Homo sapiens: one gene and its partners. The protein of the gene in region 1 purifies or fractionates together with the protein of each later gene. This does not show direct contact. Each region holds a gene or a part of one and is shown in the gene's direction. Other genes may lie near its edges.

The links.
Region 2: the proteins of SLC15A4 (region 1) and LGALS9 purify together in Homo sapiens (affinity purification with mass spectrometry; 2 studies listed by BioGRID and IntAct, with this or other methods). This does not show direct contact.
Region 3: the proteins of SLC15A4 (region 1) and STX12 purify together in Homo sapiens (affinity purification with mass spectrometry; one large-scale study listed by BioGRID and IntAct). This does not show direct contact.
Region 4: the proteins of SLC15A4 (region 1) and STK11IP purify together in Homo sapiens (affinity purification with mass spectrometry; one large-scale study listed by BioGRID and IntAct). This does not show direct contact.
Region 5: the proteins of SLC15A4 (region 1) and VAMP7 purify together in Homo sapiens (affinity purification with mass spectrometry; one large-scale study listed by BioGRID and IntAct). This does not show direct contact.
Region 6: the proteins of SLC15A4 (region 1) and SLCO4A1 fractionate together in Homo sapiens (co-fractionation; one large-scale study listed by BioGRID). This does not show direct contact.
Region 7: the proteins of SLC15A4 (region 1) and ORC4 purify together in Homo sapiens (affinity purification with mass spectrometry; one large-scale study listed by BioGRID and IntAct). This does not show direct contact.

What each region holds. Positions count from the first base shown.
Region 1 is NC_000012.12:128,817,459-128,820,958, reverse strand, and holds part of SLC15A4 (solute carrier family 15 member 4), read left to right. Parts: intron 1-951; exon of another isoform or gene 952-3,500. UniProt on the Homo sapiens protein: Proton-coupled amino-acid transporter that mediates the transmembrane transport of L-histidine and some di- and tripeptides from inside the lysosome to the cytosol, and plays a key role in innate immune response.
Region 2 is NC_000017.11:27,634,188-27,637,687, forward strand, and holds part of LGALS9 (galectin-9), read left to right. Parts: intron 1-3,500. UniProt on the Homo sapiens protein: Binds galactosides. Has high affinity for the Forssman pentasaccharide. Ligand for HAVCR2/TIM3. Binding to HAVCR2 induces T-helper type 1 lymphocyte (Th1) death.
Region 3 is NC_000001.11:27,797,219-27,800,718, forward strand, and holds part of STX12 (syntaxin-12), read left to right. Parts: intron 1-3,500. UniProt on the Homo sapiens protein: SNARE promoting fusion of transport vesicles with target membranes. Together with SNARE STX6, promotes movement of vesicles from endosomes to the cell membrane, and may therefore function in the endocytic recycling pathway.
Region 4 is NC_000002.12:219,611,357-219,614,856, forward strand, and holds part of STK11IP (serine/threonine-protein kinase 11-interacting protein), read left to right. Parts: exon of another isoform or gene 1-5; intron 6-247; coding exon 248-478; intron 479-598; coding exon 599-702; intron 703-1,771; coding exon 1,772-1,869; intron 1,870-2,395; coding exon 2,396-2,574; intron 2,575-2,804; coding exon 2,805-2,886; intron 2,887-3,119; coding exon 3,120-3,190; coding exon of another isoform or gene 3,191-3,333; exon of another isoform or gene 3,334-3,500. UniProt on the Homo sapiens protein: May regulate STK11/LKB1 function by controlling its subcellular localization.
Region 5 is NC_000023.11:155,933,345-155,936,844, forward strand, and holds part of VAMP7 (vesicle-associated membrane protein 7), read left to right. Parts: intron 1-3,500. UniProt on the Homo sapiens protein: Involved in the targeting and/or fusion of transport vesicles to their target membrane during transport of proteins from the early endosome to the lysosome. Required for heterotypic fusion of late endosomes with lysosomes and homotypic lysosomal fusion.
Region 6 is NC_000020.11:62,666,503-62,669,647, forward strand, and holds part of SLCO4A1 (solute carrier organic anion transporter family member 4A1), read left to right. Parts: coding exon 1-73; exon of another isoform or gene 74-119; intron 120-1,242; coding exon 1,243-1,408; intron 1,409-1,509; coding exon 1,510-1,682; intron 1,683-1,974; coding exon 1,975-2,039; intron 2,040-2,427; coding exon 2,428-2,576; intron 2,577-3,145. UniProt on the Homo sapiens protein: Organic anion antiporter with apparent broad substrate specificity.
Region 7 is NC_000002.12:148,014,238-148,017,737, reverse strand, and holds part of ORC4 (origin recognition complex subunit 4), read left to right. Parts: intron 1-3,500. UniProt on the Homo sapiens protein: Component of the origin recognition complex (ORC) that binds origins of replication. DNA-binding is ATP-dependent. The specific DNA sequences that define origins of replication have not been identified yet.

The sequences.
Region 1 (3,500 bases):
CCCAAGCCTTTCTTCAGGGATCCGTCCCCATGACCCAAACACTAGGCCCCACGAGAAGCACTGGGGATCACATTTCTTCATGAGGTTTGGAGGGTCAGATATGGAAACCATGGCATGTGAGCAGTAGGGAAGGCGACTCTTAGGCTTTTGCCTAAGTATCTGTGAGTGCCTGTTTTTTAGGAACATTTACTGAGAGCTTACTGTGCACCAGGCACAGTGCTTGCTAAGTACCTAAGTACAGTATCTGGTTAGTCCACATGACACGTATGCTACATGTCTACATGTCTACACGACTACTTAGTCTACATGACACGTACGGTGCCCATTTTACTGATGAGGAAACTGAGGCTTGAGAGGTTTAATCATTGGCCCAAAGTTACACAGCTTGTATGTGACTGAGCCAGGATTCAAAAGCCTGTCCTTTGAATGTGAGCTTTCACTCTGCCTGTGTAAGGCTATCCGTTACAGTCAGGAGACACCTTAGAATGACGTTAGAAATGATAGTTTCTAATGTACTGAATTGGAACTGGGTTTTTTGTACAGTGGCGTATGCTTTACATATGTGACGAAATCTGAACCTCACAGGAGTCTTAGATCCACTTTACTGATGAGGAAACAGGCACAAAAACAGATCACTTTCTTACTGCCTGTAGGTAGTGAGTGGTCAAGCTGGACTTCTATCCCAGCTCTGGTTCTTTTTTAGCTACCACACTAAGATGGGCCCAGTGTGCGTGCGTTCCGTAATGGTTCTGCAGGGCTGGATCTCAAGGCCCAGGCTCTTGGCCTTGGGGTGCCATTGGCTCATGAAGGAACGGGGCTGGTAGCACAGTCAGCCTCTATCTTTTAAAGACTTGGCCACCCCACACAGGTGTACTGGAAAGCTTCTATTATGCCTCTTACTTGTGCCTTTCCCACGTGATCTTATTTAAGCCTCGCCACAGTTGCTGGTGTGTGTGCTGCAGTTAAGCCTGTTGTCCAGGGAACAGAGGCCTAGAGGGTTAGCTCCCAAGGCTGCACAGCAGGTGCCTAGGGGAGCTGGTTTGGGGCCCTGGCAGCCTGACTTAAAAGCTGGTGCTCTCCAGGATATAACAGGCGAGTAATTGATACTTCTTAAAATGAGGAGGAAATGGTGCTCGGTTATCTCAGATGAATCTGACAGAATATGCGCTCTTTCATCCATAATTAAATGTGGATGTTGAAAGGAGATGTGCCTTCTTCCGAAAGATAGCTGGCCTGATCTCTTCCGACGTAATGCTGTCATGTTAAAAGAGGACCTTGTGGATGAAAGGCTACTCGGGAGACCTGGCCGCCCCCTGCAGCGCGTGCTGAGTGATTGGATCCCAGCTGCTTTCATGGCCGTTCTTCTTGGATGCTTGGGATAGTTTGTAGACCGCCTATTAGCTAATAATGGACCAATGTTGCCTTTCTTAGGTGTGGTAATTTCACTGCCGTTAAAAGAATGTCCTTATTTCCAGGAGATTCATGATGAAATTTTGGGGGTGAAATTGGTTGCTGGAGCTTATTTGTATGTAGATCACCCAGAAGTATTTTTTTTTAAGACCAAGTCTTATTCTCTTGTCCAGGCTGGGGTGCAGCGGTATGATCTCAGCTCACTGCAACCTCTGCCTCCTGGTTCAAGCTATTTTCCTGCCTCAGCCTCCTGAGTAGCTGGGACTACAGGTGTGAGCCACCACGCCTGGCTAATTTTTGTATTTTTAATAGAGACGGGGTTTCACCATGTTGGCCAGGTTGGTCTCGAACTCCTGACCTCAGGTGATCCACCTGCCTCGGCCTCCCAAAGTTCTGGGATTACAGGCGTGAGCCACCGCGCTCGGCCAGTATTTTTTATGTATAGAAAAAAGTGCTGAGGCTCCAAGTGAAGGGTAGAGAGGTGTGCATTTTGCAATTCAACTTTTCTATACATTTGGAATTTTTTTAAATGAAAGATAAGAAAATGTTCACTGATGAATGTATAAACTAAATATAGTATATCCATACAATGGCATATTTTTCAGCCATTAAAAAAGAAATGAAGTACTGATGAGCCTTGAAAACATTCGGCTGCATGAAGGAAGCCAGACACATAAGGCCCCAGTTGTGTGATTCCATTGATGTGGAATGCCCGGAAGAGGCGAGTCCACAGAGACTGGAAGTAGATTAAGGGTTGCCACGGGCCAGGAGAGGGGCGTGGGACTGACTTAAAGGGAACAGGAGTTCCTGTTGGTGTGATGAGAATGTGGACTTGGATGGCAGTGATGGCTGTACATCTCTGAATATACTAGACACTACTGAATTGTACACTTTTGAAGGGTGAATTTTATGGTATGTGAATCATAGTGAAAAAACATTTGAAGGGAAAAGTACCCTTATGCCAGGGTGCTTGCCCGTGACCAGGTGGCAGGTCCCCCTCCAGGTGCGGCTGCTTCATGGCAGGAGGCCTGGCTGGGGACCCTGAGGTGTGCAGGCCTGAAGTACACTCTGTTGTGCCCCAGGCGAGGGTTAATTTGTCCTGGTTTGGTCCTTTTCATTTAGAGGAAACCTGTTTGTATTTTTAAGGTGCTTTTTATGGTTCTTTGTCACTTACCTCTTCATCTCCCAGGTAGAGCCTCTGGGAAACATTCTGATAGGAGAGACAATGGGGTGAGGCTGCATAGCTTTGAGAAGGAGGCCTAGTTGGCTTCTGAAAGAGGATGTGTGAGCTGTGAGTCCAAGGGAGACGTATGTTCGTGTAAATCATGTCAGGCCGTATCTTCCCCCAGTGTTTCACCTTTTTCAAAGGTCACAATCGTTCTTGGTGGATGGATTATTTGAAATAGTGACCTGAAAGACGAAAATCTTATGTTACAGATGAAAAGAGCAAATGATGCATTTTTTTTTTTTCTAGAGGAAAAACTGACACCCCATTTTAAGGAATTCTTCTGTCAGCCAACTGTTTGGTATGCTGTACACAATTCTATTCTTTTAGCTTTTCTTCTCCAAATTGATTTTGGTGGTATCTTTTGGCCAGTCATGTGAAAACCTTGTTTACCCTTGGTAGGGCACGTAGCTGCAGCTCACACAGTGATGTCATGCAAACGATGGGCAGGAGGTTGTGGCCTGCTCGCCAGGGGCTGGGAAGCATGTGATGTCCCTTCACAGCAGCCAGGTTCCCTTGGTACAGAAATGCCTGCTGTGTGGTTATTTAGGGCTTAGTAATTTTGGCTTATAAAGTAATTTTGATGGATTACTCTTGGAGTTGGAATAAATTGACCACCACAATTACACAGGAAATGAGGATGAATGGCATTTTAAGGTTAGGATTTTCCCAGAGTAATCAAATGCTGATATTTTCATGCTTCATCTGAAGAGGACATAAGTCTGAGACTGTGGGAAGATATGTGCAGTGTCACTGTGGGTAACGGGAAGGCCCGAGTGAGACCGTGGGAAGGTGTGTGCAGTGTCACTGTGGGTAATGGGAAGGTCCGAGTACATTTCAGTTAGGAAATCATTTGTGCCTCTAT
Region 2 (3,500 bases), on another chromosome or scaffold:
TTTCCTTTTCCATCTTCTAGAGGCTGCCTGCAGGCCTTGGCTTATGACCCCTCCTGCCATCTTTAAAACCAGCAGCTTTGGCTGGGCCCAGTGGCTCATGCCTATAATCCCAGCACTTTGAGAAGCCGAGGCAGGAGGATCTCCTTAATCCAGGAGTTTGAGACCAGCCTGGGCCACAAAGTGAGACCACGTCTCTACAAAAAATAGACAAACATTAGCCAGGTGTGGTGGTGCATGCCTGTAGTCCTAGCTACCTGGGAGGCGGAGGTGGGAGGGTCACGTGAGCCTGAGGAAGTGGAGGCTACAGTGAGCTGAGATCGCGTCAACACACTCCAGCCTGGCTGACAGAATGAGATCCTGTCTCAAAAAAAACAAAAAACAAAAAACGAAAACAAACAAAAACCCCCCAAAAACGCAAACCAGCTTCTTCTTGCTTCTGTGCTTCTGTTGTCACATCTCCTACCTCTGACACTGATCCTCCTGCCTTCCTTTTATAGGATCCTTGTGATCACATTGGGACCACCTTTAAAATCAGGACAATCTCCCCATGCCAAAATTACTAATTTAATCACATCTACAAAGTCCCTTCTACAACATATTCACAGTTTCCGGGGATTCGAATGTGGATGTTTCTGGGGGGTGGCCCACTGGTAACCAGTGTTATAAGTTTCTTATAAATCCTTCCAGATATATTTTATCTATAAATAAATAAATGCAAGTCCATAGACTTCCCCCACCCACTTTTTATACAAATGGCATCATTCCATATCAGTGCTCAGAGTTCTGTCTTCCTCTTTTTCTTTTCTTTTTAAGGCTACACAGAACCTATTAAATGGAAATACCCTAATTTATTTCACCTTTTTCCTGTCAGAGGACTTTTAAGCTCTTTCCAATGCTTTGCTTTATAATCCTTTGTGTTATAATGCTGCAATGAATAACCTTGTTTGTAGGATGATATTCAATTTAAAAACTCATTTTTCAGGCCAGGCATGATGGTTCATGCCTGAAATCTTGGCCCTTTGGGAGGCCGAGCCGGAAGGATCACTTGAGCTAGCCCAGGCAACACATAGAGACCCCATCTTTACAAAAAATATTGTAAGATTAGTGGGACATGGTGGCCTGCACCTATTTTGTCCCAGCTATTCGGGAGGTTGAGGCGGGAGGATTACTTGAGCCAGGGGGTGGAGGCTGCAGTGAACCATGATCACAGCCCTCACTGAACTCCAGCCTGGGCAACAGAGTGAGAACCCATCTCTAAATAAATAAATAAATAAATAAATAAATAAATAAATAAATAAATAATCTTGTTTTTCCGAATTTTGGGGGCACTATTTAAGATATTTTGAAACCTCACAGAGCTTTTTTGGGGAACTTGTTGCCTTGGAGATTAGCCTGTCCTGTCCCGCCCCCATGATCTGTACTTCCTCTTTCTCCCTCCTGGCTTCCTTAATTAAGCCTTGTGTGTACTTGCCAGCCCATGTCCATCACGCTCTGCCTTCAATTCTAGATGCTGTGCTGTGAATACACTTAAGTGGAGGCCGCATGCTTCCCAGGAGGGTGTGTATTTTCAGTGTTGTGTCTCATGATAGTATGAAAGGCTCTGGAGAGAATCACAGGCTTCCACAAACAGGCAAGGAGAAAAATGTTCCACAGACATGTTTCAGGGAAAACAGGCTTCCCAATCCTAGGCCGTGCTGGTCCATAATTGGATCAGGCTGACTCTCCTTCCCCTACACTGCTGGTGTAGACAGGGACAAGAATGAGAAGTCAGAGACACAGAGAAGCTGTGATTTGCTTGAGGTCACTAAAGTACTTAATGGCAGAGTTCAGACCTGACCTGAGGGGCAACAAAAGACACCCCCCTCAAATCCATGGGGAGCAGAGTCTAACTGAATCAGATCCCAGATTTCCTGGGGCTCTCACGGTGCCAGGTGTGTACACTGAGCTAGGATGGGTTTCCCAGGGTTCTGTGTGGTCACACAACTCAACAATACAGACCAGAAAGCAGTGGCAAGTAGGCTGAATTTGGCTGGTGGGTGTTTTCTGTTTGGCCTGCACAGTGTTTCTTTTAACGTTTTATTATAGGAAATTCAAACATGCAGAAGGAATTGTACCATCAACAACACACACCCATCACTCTGCTCCAACAATGATCAACTCAGGCCTATCTTGCTTCATCCTATACCCTCCCTCGCTTGCTTCCTTCCCACCCTCAGATATGTGGAAGCAAATCCAAAGATACCATTCCATTTCAAATATTTCATTTTGTATCTCTATAATATGGGAATTTGGGGGGTTTCAAGACAGGATTTCACTTTGTTGCCCAGGCTGGAGTACAGTGGTGTGATCATGGCTCACTGCAGCCTCCACCTCCCAGGCTCAAGGGATCCTCCCACCTCAGCCTCCCAAGTAACTAGAGTTAAAGGTGTGCACCACCACACCTAGCTATTTTTTTTTTATTTTTTGTAGAGATGGGGGTCCCATTACGTTGTTCAGGCTGGCCTCAAACTCCTGGGCTCAAGTGATCCTTCTGCCTCAGCCTCCCAAAGTGCTGGGATTATAGATGTGAGCCACTGTGCCCAGCCAGGAGCTTTTACATAATCCTTTTTGACAAATTTTCCCCCAAGAAATTAGAAAGTTTTATAGAAAAAAAAAATCCGGACTTCTGTCTTCTCTTAAAAATTTGGAAGCTCTGCCAATACTGGGCCCAGATGGCAATCACTGCTTAGCACGGAGTAGATGTTGACTTTTCAGATGAGGGGTGTGACATCTACTTTGCCACAGTCCCCACCACTCCCCCACCTGGCCATCTCACCCATACACATCACCTGCCTGGCTCCTTTAGGCATTTAATTTGTGTAGGAAATTGACCTAAAGGAGATATTAGAGAAGACATTAAAAACTTGAAGAATGTGAAAATCAGCCAGGAGATAGAACTGTGCTTTAATGCGGGTTATAGAACGACATTGGATATGAAGCATTTTGGGAATAAACTTTGAAAATTGGAAGTACCAGTTTGTGAATTTTGCTGAGAGAGATGAAGGTGGGGGGTGGGTGACAGTGGTGAAGCATCTCCTATGTGCCAGTCTCTTTTACCACAGGCTGTTTCTCACAAAATCATCAATCATATGCAGCAGGTGAAACACCTTCCTATTTTACAGATGAGGAAACTGAGGCACAGAGAGGTGAAATAGGCTTCCCAAGGTCACTCAGGTCATGAGCAGCAGAGCTAGGATTCAGACCTGGAGTTGGCCTGACTCTAAAACGATGCATGCCTCACCATGGCCCATCACTCCTTTAAAGAGCACCAGAAGAGAGAATTTGACAAAGTGGTTGCCCGTGGGGCCTGGGATGGGTGGGGAAACCACGCTAGGCCTCGGGGCTGCTGAGGGCCTGAGGGAAGGAATGGGGAGCCCGGGCACAGAAATAGAGGAGGGGGCTGCCCCACGGCTACAGAAGGCATCTGGGAAGACGCTCTGCTGAAGGTGGCCAGGAGGGCA
Region 3 (3,500 bases), on another chromosome or scaffold:
GCTAATTTTTGTATTATTAGCAGAGACAGGGTTTTGCCACGTTGGCCAGGTTGGTCTTGAATTCCTGACCTCAAGTGATCCGCCTGCCTCGGCCTTCCAAAGTTCTGGGATTGCAGGTGTGAGCTACCATGCCTGGCCTATTCACTTTTTTTCTGTTTCCTTTGATCCTCTTGCCTATCCCGTCTGCCCTGAAACTTTCTTCTTGCCATGATTCTCTTTCATTGTGTCCCCCAACTCTGGAGATCCCCAGGTTGAGTCAGCCTCCTTCCCGGACTTCATATCCTCCTAAGAGTGGGCATGCCCCAAGGTTGTGCCATTGATCCTCGAATTATTTCACTGTATGCTTTCTCCTTAGGAGTCACCTGCTTTTATGACCTCCCTTTCACCTTTATGATCATGACCTCAGATCTTTTTCCAATCTAACCCCTTCACCTCTAAGTGCGTGGCCCATATCTTCAATTCATGTTCTGACATCTCCTCCTGAAATAAACTACCTTCATATAAAACTTGTCTTATACTGAGTTTCTCATGTTTCTCCCAAACCCCTTAACTAAGTTCATTGACAATACTTAACATCACAGAAAAGTTTGTGCCTTTTGACCTAATATTCTCACTCATGCTAATTAGCCCTAAGGGGAAAAAAAATTCTGAAGGTAAACACACACACACACACACACACACACACACACAGAGTCTATATACTCTGGAGCCAAATTTCCTGGATTTAAATCCATCTTTGTCACTTACTGTGTGATCCTGGGCAAATTACATAGCCTCTGTGGTGCTTTGGTTTTCTGATGTGTAAAGTTGGGACTATAATAATGCCTAATTTATAGGTCATTGTATAGATAAATGAATTATTATGTAAAGCACTTACAGTAGTACTGGTACAATTTAAGCACTATATAAATATTAGCCATTACATTGGGGCTTACTTTATAATATTTAATAACTGTGAAAAATCTAGAAGGATTATTTACATAAAATTTAGGTCAACTTGATGGAATATATGTAAGCGATTAAAGATCATGGCCGGGCACAGTGGTTCACACCTGTAATCCCAGAACTTTGGGAGGCTGAGGCGGGTGGATTGCTTGAGTACAGGAGTTTGAGACCCAGCCCGGGCAACATCTCTACAAAAATTAGCCAGGCACGGTGGCTCATGCCTATAATCCCAGCACTTTGGGAGGCCGAGGTGGGCGGATCACCTGAGGTCAGGAGTTTGAGACCAGCCTGACCAACATGGCAAAACCCCATCTCTACTAAAAATACAAAAATTAGCCAGGCGTGATGGTGGCCACCTATAATCCCAACTACTCGGGAGACTGAGGCAGGAGAATTGCTTGAACCCAGGAGGCGGAGGTTGCAGTGAGCTGAGATTGTGCCATTGCACTCCAGCCGGGGTGACAGAGCGAGACTCCCTCTCAAAAAAAAAAAAAAAAAAAATCGCGCCACTGCACTGCAGCCTGGGTGACAGAGCGAGACTCCATCTCAAAAAAAGAAAAAAAAAAAAACTCGTGCCACTGCACTCCAGACTGGACGACAGAGCGAGACTCCGTCTCAAAAAAAAAAAAAAAAAAAAAAAATTAGCCAGGCATCGTGGTACACATCTGTAGTCCCAGCTACTCAGGTGGCTGAGGTGAGAGGATCATTTGAGTCTGGGAGGTTGGGGCTGCAGTGAGCTGAGATCACACCACTGCACCCCAGCTTGGGTGACAGAGCAAGACCCTGTCTCAAAAAAAAAAAAAACAAAAACATAATTGTGAAGAGTATGGTAACATGGAAAATGTTTATGATGTATTTAAAAGTTATGATAATATTTTTGCACGGTAAGGTTAGGGAATGATGTCCTCCCCGTTATTGTTATAATTTTGTTTATGCAAAAATAAAAATCTCAGAAGAAAAGGGTTGCTCATCTAAATTTGCTTTTAGTATTACCATCACTCTTCCAGGTTTGAAATTTCAGTCATTCTTGACTTTATCTCTCTTTCCCCACCACCAGTCAAAATGTTTCTTAAATTCATTTCTTTATGATTTTATTACTGATACTGTGTCCTCCTAACCTTAAACCTAGACTATTGAATTAGTGTTCTGTTTGACTTGTTTCTTTTTTCCATTCCACCTTTGTGTAAACGGTGACCCAGGTCTCATCACAGACTAATTTTTCTAAGTTACTATTTTGTACCCATGATGTTTCTTGCTCAAAAATCTTCATTGCTCTTTGTTCTTTAGAGGTTGAACCCCAAACTCATTAGCTTGTTTTTTTTTTTGTTTTTTTTTTTGAGACAGAACCTGGCTCTTTTGCTCAGTCTGGAGTGCAGTGGCGCGATCTCAGCTCACTGCAACCTCCACCTTCCAGGTTTAAGCAGTTCTCCTGCCTCAGCCTCCCAAGTGGCAAAGGACTACAGGCGCACGCCACCACGCCTGGCTAATTTTTTGTATTTTTAGTAGAGACATGGTTTCACCATGTTAGCCAGATGGTCTCCATCTCCTGGCCTCGTGATCTGCCTGCCTCATCCTCCCAATAGCTTGGCGTTTTGTTTTGTTTTTTGAGACGGAGTTTCACATGTGTTGCCCAGGCTGGAGTGCAATGGCACGATCTCAGCTCACTGCAACCTCCACCTCCTGGTTCAAGCAATTCTCCTGCCTCAGCCTCTCAAGTAGCTGGGATTACAGGTGCCTGCCACCATGTCTAGGTAATTTTTTCTATTTTTAGTAGTGATGGGGTTTCACCATGTTGGCCAGGACGGTCTTGAATAATTCCTGCCCTCAAGTGATCCACCCACCTTGCCTTCCAAAGTGCTGGGATTACAGGCATGCGCTACTGCGCCCGGCCTAGCTTGGCATTTAAAACCTGCTGTGGTTGGCCCCTTTCTTAACTTTCCAATTTTGTATTTTAGCTACTCTCATTACTAAACGTGTAGTTCCAACCAAACAGTCTGTCTAGAGATCCTCTTCAAGTTCTGCCACCATGCCTTTGCTCACACTATTCTCTTGCTTGGATTTGCCTTACCCCTTCTTTCTGCTTATTCATGCCTTCCTCTTACTTCACTGTCCACCTTCTCTTGAGGCCTTTCTTGGCCGCTTGAGTTCTTACTGATTATTCCTGCCCTCTGAACTCCTGTAGTACCAATTGGATATAGCAGTTATTTATAATAACTTTGTTACTTGTCTGTCTATATCCTTTATTTACAAATAGACAGCTGTTTGAGGTCAGGGGTGAGTTTTTACTTCTGTGTTCATAGAACAGGACAATGCTGTCAGTATGTGGTGTGTGTGTGTGTGTGTGTGTGTGTGTGTGTGTGTGTGTGTGTTTTGTTTTGTTTTTTCAGACAGAGTTTCACTCTATTGCTGAGGCTGGAGTACATGGCATGATTTCAACTCACTGCAGCCTCAACCTTCCAGGGTCAAATGATCCTCCTGCCCCAGCCTCTGAGTAGCTGATGTGTACCACCACGCCCGGCTAATTTTTTTATTTTTTGTAGAGATAGGATTTTGTC
Region 4 (3,500 bases), on another chromosome or scaffold:
AGAAGGTAGAGTGCACTTTGAGGAGTTTGTGGGCCAGGGTTAGCTCATCCCTCCCTGGGGTGGGGAGTGATCAGTTGGCAGCTGTGCCGGGAGAGGGAGCTGGTGGCCTGGGGCGCGGTGGTTGTGTATGAAGCTGGAGGCTTGGGCTCAGGGGAGACCTGAGCATGGGGAAGGAGCATCGTGAGCATGGTGGGAGTTGTGGCACTGTGGGGGGGGCTCATGGGGACCGTGTCCATCCTCCCTCCAGAATCTCCTGCTGTGTGTCCTAACTGTGGTAGTGACCACGTGGTTCTCCTCGCTGTGTCTCGGGGAACCCCCAACAGGGAGCGGAAACAGGGAGAGCAGTCTCTGGCTCCTTCTCCGTCTGCCAGCCCTGTCTGCCACCCTCCTGGCCATGGTGACCACCTTGACAGGGCCAAGAACAGCCCACCTCAGGCACCGAGCACCCGTGACCATGGTAGTTGGAGCCTCAGTCCCCGTGAGTATAGGCAAAACAAGACATAGATGAGTTTGGGGAAGGGAAGGGGCACTGATGGGGAGGTGGAGATGGAGCCCAGGGGCTGCCATGGGCAGGCTGATGCCCCCTCATTGCCCTCAGCCCCTGAGCGCTGTGGCCTCCGCTCTGTGGACCACCGACTCCGGCTCTTCCTGGATGTTGAGGTGTTCAGCGATGCCCAGGAGGAGTTCCAGTGCTGCCTCAAGGTCTGTGCTCCCTGACACTGCCCATGCCCCCAGCTGTCCAGGGTGCCCACTCGTTTCCATCACAGCCAACTGAGTCAGATCAAGCACTCTAGAGACCTGATCTGGCTTCTGGTTTCAACCCCAGCAGCTTCTTGCTGTGTGGCCGTGGACACATTCCCTGGTATTTGAGTCCCAGTTGTTGCCTGTCTGCAATGGAGATAACGATGCCTCCCTTACACAGTGGCGTGCGTCAGGGCTCATGTTGAAGCTGCCCAGCCCAGCACCTGGCACTCATCAATGGGGCCTCCTAGCATTATTATAAACACATGATGTCGTTAGGCCTTTGTTGAGCACCTGTTGTGCTAGACATTGAGGATCTACAGATCAATCTTGCCCTTGATCTTACAGTCTGGTGTGAGAAGCTGACAATGATTATGCAATATGCAAATGCTGTAATCGGGCTAAGGCCCTTGAAGGGGTGTCTAGTCCAGCTTGAGTGGGTCAAGGAACCTTCCTGGGAGGTGATGTCTAAGCTCAGTCTTGAAGGGTAAGTTAAGGAGTAGGGAGGAAAAGAATGTCTTAGGTAAAGGAAGCCGCAAATGCATGGAGGCCCGAGAGTGTCGCTGGTGGGGAGAACTGCCCAGGATGAGGGCACCTGGACATGCAGGGCGAGGGGCAGGGGTCCTGAGAGGACTCTGGGGGGCCGGCAGGGGCCAGGTCAGGAGCTGCCTCCTGTGTCTGCCAAGGAGTTTGGACTTGTTTCTGAGGGCCACTGGGAGCCACTGAAGGATTTGAAATGGGGCAGTGATGGTCAGTTTTGTGCCTTAGAATAGTTAGTCTGGCGGAGCGTGGAGGGGGTGAGGCGACAGGCAGGGAAGCCAGCTGCTGAGGCTCTGAGCGGGCAGGGGCTGCAAGGCAGAGAGCGGTGGTGGATGAAGAGGCTGTCGAGTGTGAGGGAAGCTCCATAGACTGGTGGGTGGGCAGTGGGAGGGTCAGGCCGAGGGTGCTGTCACCAGGAACTCGGCTTTCAGTCTGGCCCCACCTCCCCAGGCCTCTCATCAGGTTTCTCACCAACTTCCTCTTCCCCCAGGTGCCAGTGGCATTGGCAGGCCACACTGGGGAGTTCATGTGCCTTGTGGTTGTGTCTGACCGCAGGCTGTACCTGTTGAAGGTGACTGGGGAGATGCGGTGAGTGAGAGGGGAGATGCAGTGAGTAAGGGGGGAGATGGGGTGAGTTGGGGGGAGATGGGGGAGTGAGGGGGAAGATGGGGTGAGGGGGGAGATGGGGTGAGTGAGGGGGGAGATGGGGTGTTAAGGGGGGAGATGGGGTGAGTGAGGGGGGAGATGGGGTGAGAGAAGGGGGAGATTGGGTGAGTGAGGGGGAGGTGGGGTGAGTGAGGGGGGAGGTGGGGTGAGTGGGGGGGAGGTGGGGTGAGTGGGGGGGACGTGGGGTGAGTGAAGGGGGAGATGGGGTGAGTGGGGGGCGGAGATGGGGTGAGTGGGGGGCGGAGATGGGGTGAGTGAGGGGGGAGATGGGGTGAGTGAGGGGGAGATGGGGTGAGTGAGGGAGGAGATGGAATGAGGGGGAAGATGGGGTGTGGTGAGCGCACGGGGGTGATGCAGTGAGTGAGGCAGGTGCAGCTGGGGCAGGGCCTCTCTGGGACTCTCACTCCACTCTCATGCTTCTCCATTGCTCTGTCCCCTCTCTCCACAGTGAGCCTCCAGCTAGCTGGCTGCAGCTGACCCTGGCTGTTCCCCTGCAGGATCTGAGTGGCATAGAGCTGGGCCTGGCAGGCCAGAGCCTGCGGCTAGAGTGGGCAGCTGGGGCGGGCCGCTGTGTGCTGCTGCCCCGAGATGCCAGGCATTGCCGGGCCTTCCTAGAGGAGCTCCTTGGTGAGAGAGGGGAGGGGAAGGCAGGAGGGTGGGCAGGAGGGTGGGCAGGGCCTTGGGGCCAGGCTCCCCACCTGGTACCCAGTAGCGGAGACAGAGAGGTAACAGGACTTGTCCCTTGTAGAAGTTTCTGAAATCCAGAAATGTGGAGAATAGGAAGGGATTGAGAGGTGGTGAGTTTAGGCTGGAGGAGAGCAGAGCCTTCTAAAGTTCCCTGGCCTGCCTCTGTCTAGATGTCTTGCAGTCTCTGCCCCCTGCCTGGAGGAACTGTGTCAGTGCCACAGAGGAGGAGGTCACCCCCCAGCACCGGCTCTGGTGAGTCGATAGGAGGCAGAGGCTGGGGTTGCTGCCCAATCCTCTTTCCACAGAGCCCCAGACATGGCCCTGTGCTGAGTAGGTCCTGGGCAGCCACCTGTCCTCATGCCATGCCCCTTATGGGCCCCTAGTGTCTCCTCCCAACCCCCTGCAGGGCTTTCTTCCCACTCCCCTCTCTTCAAGTCCTTCCCACCCGCTAGCTGATCTTCCTGTGCCTGCCATATTCCCTCTAGGCCATTGCTGGAAAAAGACTCATCCTTGGAGGCTCGCCAGTTCTTCTACCTTCGGGCGTTCCTGGTTGAAGGTGAAGCCTCTGTGCAGCTGATGCTTCCCTGGTCTCTGTACCCTACCTTGTCACAGGCACTGGCCCACGCGCAGCACCTGTACAGTGCCCTTGCAGCAACTGTCAGTTCCTGGAACCTGGAGAACCTCTCACTTGAGGGCATAGCTGAGTAACAGCCTCAGTGTGCCCTGACCCTCTGGGTGGGGTTAGGAGGCACCCAGGATCCTCAGTTACCCAGAGCCTTTGCTCTCGGGCCCAGGCTTTCTATGAAGTGGAGCAGCGTGGCTGAGTCGGCCCTGCCTCATCAGTCACAGAAGGAGAGGGTGGAGCC
Region 5 (3,500 bases), on another chromosome or scaffold:
GGTTGGTAAGCTATTAATTATTGCCTCAATTTCAGAGCCTGTTATTGGTCTATTCAGAGATTCAACTTCTTCCTGGTTTAGTCTTGGGAGGGTGTATGTGTCAAGGAATTTATCCATTTCTTCTAGATTTTCTAGTTTATTTGTGTAGAGGTGTTTGTAGTATTCTCTGATGGTAGTTTGTATTTCTGTGGGATCGGTGGTGATATCCCCTTTTATCATTTTTTATTGCGTCTATTTGATTCTTCTCTCTTTTCTTCTTTATTAGTCTTGCTAGCAGTCTATCAATTTTGTTGATCTTTTCAAAAAACCAGCTCCTGGATTCATTGATTTCTTGAAGGGTTTTTTGTGTCTCTATCTCGTTCAGTTCTGCTCTGAGTTATTTCTTGCCTTCTGCTAGCTTTTGAATGTGTTTGCTCTTGTTCCTCTAGTTCTTTTAATTGTGATGTTAGGGTGTCAATTTTATATCTTTCCTGCTTCCTTTTGTGGGCATTTAGTGCTATAAATTTCCCTCTACACACTGCTTTAAATGTGTCCCAGAGATTCTGGTATGTTGTGTCTTTGTTCTCATTGGTTTCAAAGAACATGTTTATTTCTGCATTCATTTCGTTATGTACCCAGTAGTCATTCAGGAGCAGGTTGTTCAGTCTCCATGTAGCTGAGCAGTTTTGAGTGAGTTTCTTAATCTTGAGTTCTAATTTGATTTCACTGTGGTCTGAGAGACAGTTTGTTATAATTTCTGTTCTTTTACATTTGCTGAGGAGTGCTTTACTTCCAACTATGTGGTCAATTTTGGAATAAGTGCGATGTGGTGCTGAGAAGAATGTATATTCTGTTGATTTGGGGTGGAGAGTTCTGTAGATGTCTGTTAGGTCCGCTTGGTGCAGAGCTGAGTTCAATTCCTGGATATCCTTGTTAACTTTCTGTCTCATTGATCTGTCTAATGTTGACAGTGGGGTGTTAAAGTCTCCCTTTATTATTGTATGGGAGTCTAAGTCTCTTTGTAGGTCTCTAAGGACTTGCTTTATGAATCTGGGTCCTCCTGTATTGGGTGCATAAATATTTAGGATAGTTAGCTCTTCTTGTTGAATTGATCCCTTTACCATTATGTAATGGCCTTCTTTGTCTCTTTTGATCCTTGCTAGTTTAAAGTCTGTTTTATCAGAGACTAGGATTGCAACCCCTGCCTTTTTTTGTTTTCCATTTGCTTGGTAGATCTTCCTGCATCCCTTTATTTTGAGCCTATGTGTGTCTCTGCACATGAGATGGATTTCCTGAATACAGCACACTGATGGGTCTTTACTCTTTATCTAATTTGCCAGTCTGTGTCTTTTAATTGGAGCATTTAGCCCATTTACATTTAAGGTTGATACTGTTATGTGTGAATTTGATCCTGTCATTATGATGCTAGCTGGTTATTTTGCTCGTTAGTTGATGCAGTTTCTTCCTAGCCTTGATGGTCTTTACAATTTGGCATGTTTTTCCAGTGGCTGGTATGTGTTGTTCCTTTCCATGTTTAGTGCTTCCTTCAGGAGCTCTTGTAAGGCAGGCCTGGTGGTGACAAAATCTCTCAGCATTTGCTTGTCTGTAAAGGATTTTATTTTTCCTTCACCTATGAAGCTTAGTTTGGCTGGATATGAAATTCTGGGTTGAAAATTCTTTTCTTTAAGAATTTTGGATATTGGCCCCCACTCTCTTCTGGCTTGTAGAGTTTCTGCCGAGAGATCAGCTGTTAGTCTGATGGGCTTCCCTTTGTGGGTAACCCGACCTTTCTCTCTGGCTGCCCTTAACATTTTTTCCTTCATTTCAACTTTGGTGATCTGACAATTATGTGTCTCGGAGTTGCTCTTCTCGAGGAGTATCTTTGTGGCGTTCTCTGTATTTCCTGAATTTGAATGTTGGCCTGCCTTGCTAGGTTGGGGAAGTTCTCCTGGCTAATATCCTGCAGAGTGTTTTCCAACTTGGTTCCATTCTCCCCATCACTTTCAGGTACACCAATCAGACGTAGATTTGGTCTTTTCACATAGTCCCATATTTCTTGGAGGCTTTTTTCGTTTCTTTTTATTCTTTTTTCTCTAAACTTCTCTTCTCGCTTCATTTCATTCATTTGGTCTTCAATCACGGATACCCTTTCTTCCAGTTGTTCGAATCGGCTACTGAAGTTTGTGCATTCGTCACTTAGTTCTCGTGCCATGGTTTTCAGCTCCATCAGGTCATTTAAGGACTTGTCTACATTGGTTATTCTAGTTAGCCATTCATCTAATCTTTTTTTCAAGGTTTTTAGCTTCTTTGTGCTGGGTTCAAACTTCCTCCTTTAGCTCAGAGAAGTTTGATCATCTGAAGCCTTCTTTTCTCAACTCGTCAAAGTCATTCTCTGTCTACCTTTGTTCTGTTGCTGGTGAGGAGCTGCGTTCCTTTGGAGGAGGAGAGGCGCTCTGATTTTTAGAATTTTCAGTTTTTCTGCTGTTTTTTTCCCTATCTTTGTGGTTTTATCTACCTTTGGTCTTTGATGATGGTGACATACAGATGGGGTTTTTGTGTGGATGTCCTTTCTGTTTGTTAGTTTTCCTTCTAACAGTCAGGACCCTCAGCTGCAGGTCTGTTGGAGTTTGTCGGAGGGCCACTCCAGACCCTGTTTGCCTGGGTATCAGCAGCGGAGGCTGCAGAACAGTGAATATTGCTGAACACCAAATGTTGCTCTCTGATCGTTCCTCTGGAGGTTTTGTCTCAGAGGGGTACCCGCCGTGTGAGGTGTCAGTCTGCCTCTACTGGGGGGTACCTCCCAGTTAGGCTGCTTGGGGGTCAGGGACCCACTTGAGGAGGCAGTCTGTCTGTTCTCAGATCTCAAACTCTGTCCTGGGAGAACCACTACTCTCTTCAAAGCTGTCAGACAGGGACATTTAAGTTTGCAGAGGTTTCTGCTGCCTTTTGTTCAGCTATGCCCTGCCCCCAGAGGTGGAGTCTACAGAGGCAGGCAGGCCTCCTTGAGCTGTGGTGGGCTCCACCCAGTTCGAGCTTCCCGGCAGCTTTGTTTACCTACTCAAGCCTCAGCAATGGCGGGCGCCTCTCCTCCAGCCTCGCTGCCACCTTGCAGTTCAATCTCAGACTGCTGTGCTAGCAATGAGTGAGGCTCCGTGGGTGTGGGACCCTCTGAGCCAGGCGCGGGATATAATCTCCTGGTGTGCTGTTTGCTAAGACCGTTGGAAAAGCGCAGTATTAGGGTGGGAGTGATCCGATTTTCCAGGTGCCATCTGTCACAGCTTCCCTTGGCTAGGAAAGGGAATTCCCTGACCCCTTGTGCTTCCCGGGTGAGGCGATGTCTCGCCCTGCTTCGGCTCACGCTCGGTGGGCTGCACCCACTGTCCAACAAGCCCCAGTGAGATGAAGCCGGTATCTCAGTTGGAAATGCAGAAATCATCCGTCTTGTGCGTTGCTCACGCTGGGGGCTGTAGACTGGAGCTGTTCCTATTTGGCCATCTTGGAACAGGAATCAAAGGAAATTT
Region 6 (3,145 bases), on another chromosome or scaffold:
TGGGCATCCTCGTCTTCTCACTGCACTGCCCCAGTGTGCCCATGGCGGGCGTCACAGCCAGCTACGGCGGGAGGTGAGGGCCAGATGGCACCTGGGTACGCGTCGGGGCCCCAAGCACCCGCGGTCCCTGGGCATGGAGGAGGAGTGGTGCAGCACTTGGGAGAGGTGGTTTTGAAAAGGGCTACGTCACAGGACAGCGGCAAGGGCAACACCCGCTCAGCAGGGCACCCGGCAGCATCCACGTGAAAAGGCACCATGCCAGCCCCCAGCAGTGCCTGCGCTTGGGTCCCGGCTGTGCCCCCGGGCAGTCATATGCCTCTCTGGGCCTCAGCACTCTGCTCTGTAGCTGTGTCAAATGGAACAACAGCCCTAGTGTTCGGGGTCCTTGAGGCTGGTCTCTCGGTGACATAAAAAGTGTCCCAGGATGTGCTCCTGGAGTTGCCATGTGCTGGGAGTGGGAGGGACACCTGCTGGTCAGGTGGCAATTAGGGAATATCCAAAATACACGTAGGTAGCCTGCACCTCGGCCCTGCCCTGCGGGCCCCGGGAGTGCACCTGCAGGTGCCGTGCAAGGCCGAGAAGCACAAAGCAGCCGTTGTGGCATTATCGGAACCTAAGAGTCATCAGGGTGGACGGGGTCACTACGCTGTCCTCACAACAGAGGCCCTGCCCACAAAGGAGTGGAGGAAGCTCATCCTGGGCCACTGCCAAGACATACTGTGAAGTGGGAAAAAGGAAGGAGTTGGACAATGGGCGCAGTGTGCTCTGATTCAAGTGAGAAGTGCAGATGTTTGTGACTGCCGAGGGGCGTGTACGTGCAGACGACCCCTGCAAATGCACAGCCGGCCTGTGGCTGGAGAACCGAGGACTGGGGTGGGGCTGGGGCCACGAGGCTGCCTTTGTGTACTTGGCGCTTTTTCTTTCCTAATGTTTGTATTTGATCCATATGAATGTGTTGCCTGTCCAAAAACAAATGAACTAGGGAAAGGGGCTGTGCATCAGGCGGACGGTGCTGGGGGGCATGGGTGTGCCTTCCTTGCGTGAGGAGGAAAAACCATTCTATCACCAGAAGGCAGTGCCCAGTGTGAGTGCCCAGCGTGCTGGGGGCGGTGCAAGCTTGGCAAGTTTGTAGACCCGAAATGCAGGCTGCATGGGGACGAGCCCCATGGCTGACCCTGTGCCTGCTGGGCGCCAGCATGGCTCTGGCCTGGACCCTACCACTCGCTTGTCCCCCCTCTGCAGCCTCCTGCCCGAAGGCCACCTGAACCTAACGGCTCCCTGCAACGCTGCCTGCAGCTGCCAGCCAGAACACTACAGCCCTGTGTGCGGCTCGGACGGCCTCATGTACTTCTCACTGTGCCACGCAGGGTGCCCTGCAGCCACGGAGACGAATGTGGACGGCCAGAAGGTGAGTGGAGCCGCTGCCTACCGCCCCTGTCCTCCCCTGGACCCTGGGAAGGGGCCCCCGTGCCTTCCCCTTGTAATCGGAGCTATTGTTGGGCTTCCCAGGTGTACCGAGACTGTAGCTGTATCCCTCAGAATCTTTCCTCTGGTTTTGGCCATGCCACTGCAGGGAAATGCACTTCAACTTGTCAGAGAAAGCCCCTCCTTCTGGTTTTCATATTCGTTGTAATTTTCTTTACATTCCTCAGCAGCATTCCTGCACTAACGGCAACTCTACGGTAAGCTGGGGTCGGGTGTGCGCTTGTCCAGAGCTTTCCTTGCAGCACCCTGAGGCGGAGCTCTGCAGATCCTGAGACAGGAGCACTCCAGGAAACACCCAGGTCTAAGCGGGCCTGTCTGTCACTGGTGGCAGGAGAGACCTCACTGTCTCTGATCTCTGACGAGGGGCTTCCCACTTGGGGGGGGGTGATGATGTGGCTGGGGACTGGTCCAGGAGGCCACTGGCCTAGGGGGTGACTTGGCATGCAACCCCACTTCTGTGGGTGCTGACGCTGTGGTTTTCTATTGCAGATGTGTCCGTGACCCTCAGAGATCCTTTGCCCTGGGAATCCAGTGGATTGTAGTTAGAATACTAGGTACTGTGCAGTGTGAGGAAGCCATGGTCAGTTGCACAGTGTGCTCACTGCACAAGGGCATGGGCAAGTGTCTAACCACCAAGGGGATGTGCTTCCCAGCAGGAGGCTGTTCCCGCCTGGGAAGGGGTCCATTCCCTAACTGTCCACTAGAGGGGCCCATCGTCATTTATTTGCCCAAAGGCTTTCCCTGGGAGATCATGGGAAACTCGCAGCCCCAATGCCGAATGCCCAAAGAAAGGAACGTTTAAGCCCTCTTTGCACCCCCTGAGAACTCCAACGGCCAGTATCACCTTCCCAGAGCCCATCATTCCAGGCCTCTTGGCTGCCTGCCCCCTGCCTAGCCCCTACCCACCAGGAGTGTGGGTGCTGAGTGGGCTTCTCTCCGCAGGGGGCATCCCGGGGCCCATCGCCTTCGGCTGGGTGATCGACAAGGCCTGTCTGCTGTGGCAGGACCAGTGTGGCCAGCAGGGCTCCTGCTTGGTGTACCAGAATTCGGCCATGAGCCGCTACATACTCATCATGGGGCTCCTGTACAAGGTAAGCAGGCCCAGGGAGGGGACAGAGGGTCTGCTCTGAGGGTGGCTGGGGGCTCCGAACATGCCGCGATCTTCCAGCAGCTTGGACCACAGCCTAGTACATCACAGATGTTCCTGCAGCCAGTTTGTAGAAGGCCCTTCCCACATTCCTCATGAGTTGGTTGTGGGGAGAGGCAGGTGGGCTGCAGGGCCTCCTCCTGGGGTTCACTGTCCAGGCCCCCAGCAGCTCCAGCAAAGCCCAGGCCCAGGCCCTGCTCCCTCTCCCACCTCCTGGGACTGCCCCTCCACAGTGTGGTCTTGCACGTACCCGGGATGCCCGTTAACTAAAAGCTTTGCAGAAATAAGAAGTGGCTGCTCCTGTTAGAGCGGCTTGACTAGCTGGTCCACTCCGGGCCTCAGTCTGGGGGGCTGGCGGGCAGGTTGCAGCCTCTCCGTGATCAGTGCGCCTTGGATTCCATTGGATCTCTTAGTCTGGCCCTCATTTTTCAAGCTAACAGAAACTTTCTGTTGTGACTTTTGGCGTATGCTACCTGGGAGGAAACGCAGTATTTGTGTTTGGAATTTGCCCCC
Region 7 (3,500 bases), on another chromosome or scaffold:
AAACCTTTCTTAACCGCAAATTATTAAATTATTATTTTTTAATTTTTGGAGATTTTTTCCCCCCTGGAGATGGAGTCTCGCTCTGTTGCCCAGGCTGGAGTCCAGTGGCATGATCTTGGCTCACTGCAACCTCCGCCTCCCAAGTTCAAGTGATTCTCCTGCCTCAGCCTCCCTAGTAGCTGGGATTACAAGCATGTGCCACCACACCTGGCTAATGTTTTTATTTCTAGTAGAGGCAAAGTTTCACCATTTTGGCTAGGCTGGTCTCAAACTCCTGACCTCAAGTGATCCACCCACCTTGGGCTTCCAAAGTGATGGGATCACAGACGTGAGCCACTGCACCCGGCATTAGCTGCAAATTATATAAAAATATAGATCAAGTATTTTATATGGCAGTTTTAATTTAGCATCTGCATTGTAATGTTGTATAAACACCATATTTCAAAGACAGTATGAAAACAATGTAAAATACCTCAGCTTTTCATTATGATTACATGTTGAAATTATAATTGATTTCACCTTGTTTTCTTTTAGTGTGAACAATAGAAAATTTTAAATTACTTATGTCACTTTTACTGTATTGCTGCTGGACAGTACTTTGAGCTAGATGTTCCTATGTGTTTACCATGTCTTAATTTCTTCCTGCGTCTCTGACTTTTCTTTTGGAATCTTTTAACTTTTACTTTAGCACACTCAGTAGAAGTTTCATAATGCAGACATTCTGATGGTCAGTTCTCTTAATTTTTTTGCTTTGTCTTAATTTTTTGTTTTGCCTTCAATCTTGAAGAATGTTTTGGGGGATATTACAGATTTGTGGTTGTTTTACTTGTACCTTGAAGATAACATTTCACTGTTTTTGGTTTTCATTATTGATTTTGAGAAATCAGCTGTCAATGCATTAGGTTGGTACAAAAGAAATTGTGGTTTGGGACAGCGAATTTTAAATCATTATAACGAGGCTCTAACATATCTTTATTAATTAAAATAGGTCATTACAATCAACACATTTTTGCCGACAAGAAATAAGTTTGTTTTTTCCTGTAATGTAAAAATCCATGCTTCAGGATTCCACAAACTCTTGGAAAGCTTTTTCCTGCATCCTGCTGGTTGTGGAAGCATTTTCCCTGAAAAAAGTTGTAGAGATGCTTGAAGGAGTGGTAGTCAGTTGAGAGGTCAGGTGAATATGGCAGATGAGGCAAAACTTTGTAGCCCAGTTCGTTCAACTTTTGAAGTGTTGGTTGTGCAGTGTGCGGTTGGGTGTTACTGTGGAGAATTGGGCCCTTTCTGTTGACCCATGCTGGCTGCAGGCATCACAGTTTTAAGTGCATCTCATTGATTTGCTGAGCATACTTCTCAGATGTAATGGTTTCTCCAGGATTCAGAAAGCTGTAGTGGATCAGACCGGCAGCAGACCAGCAAACAGTTACCATGGCCTTTTTTGGTGCAAGTTTGGCTTTGGGAAGTGCTTTGGAGCTTCTTCGCGGTCCAGCCACTGAGCTGGTCATTGCTTGTCATATAAAATCTAGTTTTTGTTGCACCTCACAGTCCGATTGAGAAATGGTTCGTTGTTGTGGAGAATAAGAGAAGACAACACTTCAAAACGGTGTTTTTTTAAATTTTTGCTCAGCTGGTGAGGCACCCACTTATCGAGCTTTTTCACCTTTTCAATTTGCTTCAAATACTGAACAACTGTGGAATGGTTGACGTTGAGTTCTTACGTTGAGTTCTTCAGCAACTTCTCATGTAATTGTAAGAGGATCAATCTGCTTCAATGATTGCTCTCAATTGGTTGTTGTCAACTTCCAGTGGCCTGCCACTACACTCCTCATCCTCAAGGCTCTGGTATCTTTTGCAAAACTTCTTGAACCACCACTGCACTGTACGTTCATTAGCAGTTCCTGGGCCAAATGCATTGTTGATATTGCAAGTTGTCTCTGCTGTTTTACGACCCACTTTGAACTTAAATAAGAAAATCACTCAACTTTGCTTTTTGTCTAGCATCATTTCCATAGTCCAAAATAAATATAAACAGCAAGTAATAAGTCATTAGCCAAAAAAAAAAAGCAAGAAATGCCCATTAAAATGACATATAACATAACCACATTTATTTAAGAATGTATTCCAGGCCGGGTGTGGTGGCTCACACCTGTAATCCCAGCACTTTGGGAGGCTGAGGTGGGCGGATCACGAGGTCAGGAGATCGATACCATCCTGGCTAACATGGTGAGACCCTGTCTCTACTAAAAATACAAAAAATTAGCCAGGCGTGGTGGCGGGTGCCTGTAGTCCCAGCTACTCAGAAGGCTGAGGCAGGAGAATGGTGTGAACCCTGGAGGCAGAGCTTGCAGTGAGCCGAGATCGCGCCACTGCAGCCCAGCCTGGGCAACAGAGAGAGACTCCATCTCAAAAAAAAAAAAAAAAAAAAAAAAATTCCAATATCAAATGGCAAATTCCAACAATGCAAAAACCACAATTAATTTTGTACCAACCTAATAATTCATGCTGCTTTGAAGGAAATCTCTCTTTTAGAATTTTTTTTTGTTTGTTTCTTTTTTTGGTTGTAATTTTTCTGCTGTTTCACTCTAATCTTTTTGTGTGGAATTCTTTTCTTCTTTTTTTTTTTTCTCCTAGTCAAGTGTGGTTGTGGGGGTAGAGGAAATGTTCAATCATCGTGTGGCATTCTTTATCTTGCCCTGTATTCATCGAGATTATTAGATCAATGCATCAGTATCTTTTTAAAGATATTGGTGATATTCTTACTGTTTCTGGTTACCTGCTGAAAATTACAATCTTGCTTTTATTGGCCTAGTATAGTTGCTCCTTAGTATCTGCTGGAAATTGGTTTCAGAACCCCGTGCAGATACCACAATCCACAGGCAGCTCAAATTCCTTATATAACATGCCATCATGTTTGCATACGGCCTACACACATCCTCCCACGTATTTTAAATAATCTCTAGATTGCTTATGGTACCTAATACAATGTAGATGCTATGTAAATATTGTTATACTGTCATGGCTTTTTAAAAATTTCTATTATTTTTTATAGTCGTGTTTTTAAAAATATACATGTATTTTTAATCCTTGGTTGAGTGAATCTGTGGCTATGAAGGGCCGACTATATTCATAGTTCATTTGTTGTTTGTTGAAGATAATTCCAGTTTCTAAATTTTCTAAGTCTGTGTCTGCTAGCTTATGATATTTTTTTCTTGTGTGCCTTGAGTACCAGTTGTATTTAAAAAATTATAGGAATATATGAGTCCTAGAATAATAGTATCTTTTTTAAGAAGGTACATTTTTCTAGGAAAGGTCTCTAGGAGTGCTTTCAGTCCCAAGTCACTATTCATGTTCAAGAGTTGGGATTCCTTCTGTTATACACATGACATTAAGGAAGACTTTAAGATCATGAATTCTATTTTCCTTCAATTTCCTCTTATCCTAATGATGTTGTCCTTAAACTCTGAACATAAATTGGGTAGTTTATCTGAGTCCCCAGCTTT